Homo sapiens: one gene and its partner. The protein of the gene in region 1 interacts with the protein of each later gene in a pairwise test. Each region holds a gene or a part of one and is shown in the gene's direction. Other genes may lie near its edges.

The links.
Region 2: the proteins of TECR (region 1) and STOM interact in binary tests that used the Homo sapiens proteins (3 or more experiments, as listed by UniProt).

The regions. Positions count from the first base shown.
Region 1 is NC_000019.10:14,527,980-14,531,728, forward strand, and holds the start of TECR (very-long-chain enoyl-CoA reductase), read left to right. Parts: upstream 1-1,614; 5' UTR 1,615-1,717; coding exon 1,718-1,732; intron 1,733-3,749. UniProt on the Homo sapiens protein: Involved in both the production of very long-chain fatty acids for sphingolipid synthesis and the degradation of the sphingosine moiety in sphingolipids through the sphingosine 1-phosphate metabolic pathway.
Region 2 is NC_000009.12:121,349,651-121,353,399, reverse strand, and holds part of STOM (stomatin), read left to right. Parts: intron 1-97; coding exon 98-180; intron 181-3,749. UniProt on the Homo sapiens protein: Regulates ion channel activity and transmembrane ion transport. Regulates ASIC2 and ASIC3 channel activity.

The DNA.
Region 1 (3,749 bases):
TCCCGGGTTCAAGCGATTCTCAGCCTCCCTAGTAGCTGGGATTACAGGTGCCCACCATTACACCTGGCTAATTTTTGTATTTTTAGTAGAGACAGGGTTTCACCACGTTGTCCAGGCTGGTCTTGAATTCCTGACCTCATGTGATCTGCCTGTCTTGGCCTCCCGAAGTGCTGGGATTACAGGTGTGAGCCACCGTGCCTGGCCAGAAATTTATGTGTTTTTCATTTACAGCACATCTCAATTTGGACCAGTCCCATTTCTTTTTCTTTTTTCTTTTTTTTTTTTTGAGACGGTCTGTTGCTCAGGCTGGAGTGTAGTGGCGAGATCTTGGCTCACTGCAACCTCCGCCTCCCGGGTTCAAGCAATTCTTCTGCCTCAGCCTCCTGATTAGCTGGGACTACAGGTGTGTACCACCACGCCCGGCTAATTTTTGTATTTTTAGTAGCGATGAGGTTTCACCATATCTGCCAGGCTGGTCTCGAACTCCTCACCTCGTGATCTGCCCCCCTCGGCCTCCCAAGGTGCTAGGATTACAGGTGTGAGCCATCGTTCCCGGCCTGGACCAGCCCCATTTCAAGGGCTCAGTGGCCCCATTGGAGCCACTAGACACGATTCTGGACGTCAGGCAGAGACCAATGTAGTTCCCCTGTCCATAGGGCGGAGCAAAGTGTGGAGGGGGGCCGGGCGGGGTGGCTCAGGCCTGTAATCCTAGCACTTTGGGAGGCTGAGGCGGGAGGATCACCTGAGGTCAGGAGTTCAAGACCAGCCTGGCCAACCATGGGGAAACCCCGTCTCTACTAAAAAAAATACAAAAATTAGTCGGGCGTGGTGGCGGGTGCCTGTAATCTCATCTACTTGGGAGGCTGAGGCATGAGAATCGCTTGAACCCGGGAGGCGGAGGTTGCGTGAGCCGTCATTGCGCCACTGCACTCCAGCTGGGGGACAGAACGAGATTGTTTCAAAAACAAAACAAAACAGAAAAACAAAGTGGGGCGGGGCTTTCATTAAAAACGGCAGTGAAGCCACCCCAGAATGGGGCTGGGGCTCAAGGTTCTTGCAGGTTGGGGGTTCCCAAATGGGGAGCTTTTCGCGACTCCGTTTCGCCTTTCCTTCCCTCCCACTCAAGAGTCTCCTCCCATAGTGACCTCCTCGCCAACCAGACTCCGCAGCCCGCGACCCCAGCCCCTAGCCCTCTCCTGCTGTTCCCGGTGTACCCCGGGGGCCGCCCACCTCAGAATTTACCCCTTCGGCGCCGCCTGTCATGTGGATGCTGCCTTGCCTGTCACTCAACTTCTTACCCCGCCCCCGCGTCTGGCCTAACCGTCGCTTACCTTGGTTTCCACAGCGACGCCATCAGGGGGCGTGGCAAAGGGACGCGCGGGGCAGAGACCTCCTTTGGATTGGTGGATGGTCAAGCCCCTTCTCTTTAGCCCCTCCTACAGGCGTTCCGCCCCCTTCGATTGGTCTCGCAAGTTGATTGGTCAATCCCCTGGTGCTAGTCCTAGTCTTGGTTCGGACCGGCCCCAAGGAGCAGGGGCGAACGTGGGCGCCTCGTGCCCTGATTGGCCGACGGGGCGCGCGCGGCCTGGAGGGGCGGGGCGGACGCAGAGCCGCGTTTAGTCTATCGCTGCGGTTGCGAGCGCTGTAGGGAGCCTGTGCTGTGCCGCGCAGTTAGGCAGCAGCAGCCGCGGAGCAGTAGCCGCCGTGGGAGGGAGCCATGAAGCATTACGAGGTAAGAAGCGAGAAACAGGGGCCGTGTGGCCACTGCTGACCCATTCTTTTTCCTTCTTTGCGGGACCACGGGACCCCACTTTCTGGTCCTGTGCCCCGAAGGAAGAGCCAGACGGCGCAGGCGCAGTGGGCAAGCGTTGCGCCCCGGGCCACTCGTAAATTCCAATGCGCATGTGCGCAGGAAGTATTTATAAATCTGCAACCCAGGCTGTTTTGGGGGTACTTTTTCTTGGGGGTCTCTGCAGGGGCTGGGACGCTTGCAGGTTCCTTGCAGCTCCCCCAGCGGGCTGAGTTGCAGACTTTGTCATGGGAGCCACGAAGGTGCGGGACCCTTGCTCCCAATCCGAGGGAGTCTTGCACAAATCTTGCGCCACGCCGCCGTCACCAGCGTAGGAAGGGGCTTTGCTATCAGTATTCTTGTGTACGACCTTTGGACCCCTTCCCTCGCCCGGGACGTTCCCGGGAGACTTAGGCGGTGAGGGAGGTGCAGCTCCACGGCTGGCTTTCGCAGAGCAGCGAAGCTGATCTTGCTTTCTGGTTATCAAAGAGGTCATCTACGTCAACCCTTGGGTGTCACCAAGGAGAAATCTTATACCCACCCACAGCCACTCTTGAAGCCCAAGTCTTCTGACTCCTAACTTGGGTCTCTTTTTCCCTTAAAACGAAGTCTTCTGATGTGCTTATCGCCCTAGGTGATAATATAATATTAATAATTCAACCAATTATCCCTGAATTATTGCTGACTTTTAAGTAACTATCATCAAATAATAAAATTTGTTATTAAAATTCAAAATAACAATTTAGCAAGTGCTTACTCTTGTGCTGGTGAGATTCTGTTACCTTGTATAAGAACTATTATTATTCCTGTTTGTAAGGATGAATAAAGTCTCAGAGATATAAAGTGACTTGTTCAAAGGCCCCTAGTTAGTAAATGCAAAACAGATAGGGGAACTCAGGACGCCAAGGTCTTAGTTCCTAGCCACTATGCCATGCTGGTCCTCAAATGAAAAATAGCAGGTCGAGCGATTTCTTGTTTCTCACTTCCCCTCCAATTTAAAAAATTCTGGCAAAATACACATAAAATTTACCATCTTGACTATTTTTAAGTGTGCAGTTCAGTGGCATTAAGAACATTCACATTGTTGTGCAACCATCACCACCACCCATCTCCAGAACTCTTTGCATCTTGGAAAACAGAAGCTGTAGACGTTAAATACTAACTCCCCATTCCTCTCCACCTCCACCTCTGGCAGCCACCATTCTACTCAGCCACCATTCCGTCTTAATGAATTGACTACTCTAGGTACCTTGGATACGTAGAAGGATTTTTTTTTTCTTTTGGAGACAGAGTTTCGGTCTTATTGCCCGGGCTGGAGTGCAATGGCGCGATCTCGGCCTACTGCAAACTCCGCCTCCTGGGTTTAAGCGATTCTCCTGCCTCAGCCTCCTGAATAGCTGGGATTACAGGTGACCGCCACCATGCCCGGCTAATTTTTTGTATTTTTAGTAGAGATGGGGGTTTCACCATGTTGACCAGGCTGGCCTCAAACTCTTGACCTCAAGTGATTTGCCCTCCTCGGCCTCCCAAAGTACTGGGATTACAGGTGTGAGCTAGTGCGCCCGGCTGTTTGTTTTTATTGACAAGTTGAATATTACTACCTCTGCCTCCTGCCCCCTTTATTGCTACTATTTTTGGAAATTTACCCACAATCCTTTGAAGCCTTTTTTTGAGACGGAGTTTCGCTCTTGTTGAGTACGCTGGAGTGCAATGGCGTGATCTTGGCTCACCGCAACCTCCACCTCCCGGGTTCAAGTGATTCTCCTGCCCCAGCCTCCTGAGTAGCCGGAATTACAGTCATGAGCCACCATGCCCGGCTAATTTTGTATTTTTAGTAGAGACAGGGTTTCTCCATGTTGGTCAGGCTGGTCTCGAACTCCCGACCTCAGGTGATCCACCCACCTTGGCCTCCCAGAGTGCTGGGATTACAGGCATGAGCCACGGTGCCTAGCCCCTTAGA
Region 2 (3,749 bases), on another chromosome or scaffold:
ACTTTTCAGTTCACTAGGTTGATTTTCTTAAAACTGAATGGAGAAGTGAACTGATTAGGTTGCTGGTGTCTGTATAATGTGTGTATCTTTGTTGCAGGTTTGTTTTTTATTCTGCCATGCACTGACAGCTTCATCAAAGTGGACATGAGAACTATTTCATTTGATATTCCTCCTCAGGAGGTAAGGTTTTCTTTGAATAACTGAGGTATCATATGTGAAAGTGCTTTACAATGAGGGACAGAATAGTTAGAGTGTAGGCTTTATTTATTTATTTATTTTAAATTTTTGTTTGTTTGTTTGTTTGTTTTAATTGGAATCTTGCTCTGTCACCCAGGCTGAAGTGCAGTAGTGTGATCTCAGCTCACTGCAACCTCCGCCGCCTGGGTTCAAGTGATTCTCGTGCCTCAGCCTCCCGAGTAGCTGAGACTATAGATGTGCGCCACCACGCCCGGCTAATTTTTTTGTATTTTTAGTAGACACGGGATTTTGCCATGTTGGCCAGGCTGGTCTCGAACTCCTGACCTCAGGTGATCCGTTCTGGCCTCCTAAAGTGCTGGGATTACAGGCATGAGCCACCGTTCCCTGCCAGAGCACAGGCTTTAGACCTTGACTGCCTTCAGCATTTCTAGCTCAGTGACCTTAAGCAAGTTCTTTAACTTTTCTGTGCCTCAGTTTCCTCATCCAGAAAATAGACATTTGTAATAGTAAGAACTACTGTATAAGGTGGTTCTGAGAAGTGAGATATATGTGCCAAGTGCTTAGAGCAATGGCTGACAAATAGTAAGTGCTATATAAGTTCTTACTGTTACTATTACAGTTGGCCCTTTGCATGCATGGGTTTTGCATACAGGGATTCAGCCAACCGCAGACTGAAAATATTAGGAAAAAACTCCACAAAGTTCCAAAAAGCAAAACTTGAATTTGCCATGCATCAAGCATGGCATTGAATCCACATGAATAAAGTGATGTGTAGGTATTGTATTGGATAATAGAAGTAATCTAGAGATGATTTAAAGTGTACAGGAAAATGTACATAGATTATACGGTTGGCTCCATGGATCAAAAATATTTAGGGAAAAAAGCAATTGACAATGATACAATAATACAAATTTTTAAAAACGGTGTAGTATAGCAACTATTTATGTAGTATTTACATTGTGTTAAGTATTATAAGTACTTCAGAAAGGATTTAATGTATAAAGGAGGATGTGCATAAGTTATATGCAAATATTGTGCCACTGTATATAAGAGACTTGAGCATCCTTGGATTTTGGTATCCTCTGAGGGTCCTAGAATCAATCTCCCACAGATACCGAGGAATGATTATTACAAAACATAGTGTAATGCTAATGTAAGTATAATAATATCATCATTGTTATTACTATCAACATTTTTACTACCACATTTCTCTTCTATGGGTTTCTGATAGAAAACCCTATTAGTTCATTATTTTTTTTCTTAAGGTTTTATTCTAGATAAATTGGTTAGAAACCAAAGAATTAGAAACTGCTTGTTGGGCATTTTAGATAAAACATAATATTTTATACTAGTGATTATTTTGTGCCTTTTCAAACTACTTCACAAGTATTATCATAGATGAAACTCATGGCAGAATCCCTAGAAAGTATATAGTTGCAGTGAAACAAAGGAATTCCTCCAGATTACAGTGGCAGAGCCAAGACTAAAATTGAGCTCTTCGGATTCTTTGTATAGTGCTGTTTTTTCCACAGCTCCATGCTAAATGCATTGTACATGAGCTCCCTCATAGCCCCCGAAAAAGTGATGGCCATCCTGGGAACCATGTCCTTAGGAGACTTAATAACCGTTGCATACAGAAAACCTGAAAACATCATGAAGGGGGAAGGACAGAAGAATGCTGTCAGTGTTTCCTGGCCAAAGGCCAGATACTCAGCATGGTGATGGAGCCTGGCCATGTTGCCTTCTCATGTCACAAATACCAGAAACCAGCTTAGGAACTTCCTTGTTGGTACTGATCCAAGAAGTGGGTGGGGTCAGACTTTATAATCCACCCAAAGTTAGTGATGCCAGGAATCATTTTGCCCACATTTTACTCATAAGAACAAGACTGAGAGTATCACTGTATTCTCTGTGTGTTTTCCCATCGTCTAAGGAAGATTGAGTCTCAGAAGGAGCCCTTCAGGGTAGCTGGACATTCTGGCATTTTCCACTATAAACATTACAGACATCTGGCAGAGTTGCTGTTTAAGCTTCTGCTTTCCAGTGGCCCTCTCCTATTCTGCAAGCTGCTGAATGCAAAGCAGATTGGAACTTGGCAGCAATCCTTTTTCTGATCCCCTGTGAAGTTTCTGTGAAGGGAGATAAACCCTTGCCGATGATAAACAGTAGGCAGAGAAGCTGTAGCTTTAGAAAGAAGCTGTGGCAAAGTCAAAGTGGCAAGAATTTGGGAATGACACACATTTTCCCATCATGTCATGGGAAATAATTAGTTTTCATACAAGATGGTAATACACTGTACATTTATTTATAAATCCTCCACTTCTCTTCCATGTTAGAAGTATTTTGAGATTACTAAAAAAGGATCACTGCTTTGATGTCTGGCAGGGCTAAACAGCCATGTTACAACATTGTTATTATTACCTTCCATTTTCATAGCTGTTTACTCTTTCAAAAGGGCTTCATTCACAAGTATGTTCTTATTTGATCTTCACAGAAATTTGGATAGAATTAGGCAGTATTATTAGCGCCATCTCACAAATGAGGAATCTGTTGGTCAAATGGGTTAAAAACCTTGCTAGAGGCCATCCAGGGACCTGAAGGCAGAGATGGGACTCAGTTCAGGTCTCCTAACTCTCACTGCTGTGTTCCTCATCGGTCACTGTTCTCAGGACCACATTTCAGTTCAGCTCCTCTCTCATTTATTGACTACCCGCTATGTTTCAAGCACTCTGCCAGTGTTAGAGTTACAAAGAATTGCCCTGAAGAAATTCATAGTCTAAGAGAGAAGTAGAAATGTGAATAAATAATGTCACTACAGTAAGGTGCAGTGGATGTGCAAGGGAAGAGTGCTTAACTCTGCCAAGTAAGCCAAGAAAGTTTCACAGAGAGAAGGACATTTAAATGATCAGTAGAAAGGTGCCAGCCTGATGTTGTTAGTGAGAGAGGCTGGAATTCCCAGGCTGGAGCAATCTTCCTGCCTCAGCCTCCTGAGTGGCTGAAACTACAGGTGTATGCCATCATGCCCAGCTGGCTTGTTTATTATTATCTAAATTAACTTATTACAGTTAATCAAGTCAGTGTTTTATTCAGTAAAGTTACCACCATTATCCAAGATGAAATAATAAGACAGCTCTTACGTGCCAGGAACTTTTCTGAGCACTTGAATGTATTTAACGCATTAATTCTAGCAAGAATGCAAAGTAGGTACTATAATTAATCTCTACTTTACAAATGAGAAAACTGAGTCCCAGTGAGTTTTAAGTGATGGATGTAACTATTTTCCTGGAGCCTCTCACTCAGATAACTTCTTAGCTTAAAACAAAAATATGTCATGTTTAGCATTTTTATGTAGCATGCTGTAAAATATGTTTTGATGCTGACCTTGCCCTTTAAAAACATTCCCCATGCACTTTTTGTTCCAGTAATATTGTGGAACTTGTAGTTTATCAAACCTTGACTCTCTAGTGCCTCTCTCTTGAATATTCTTCCACTCCACCCAACACCCTCAGAAAAATTGTATTCCTTTCTTCAAGATTCAATTCAGGTATCAC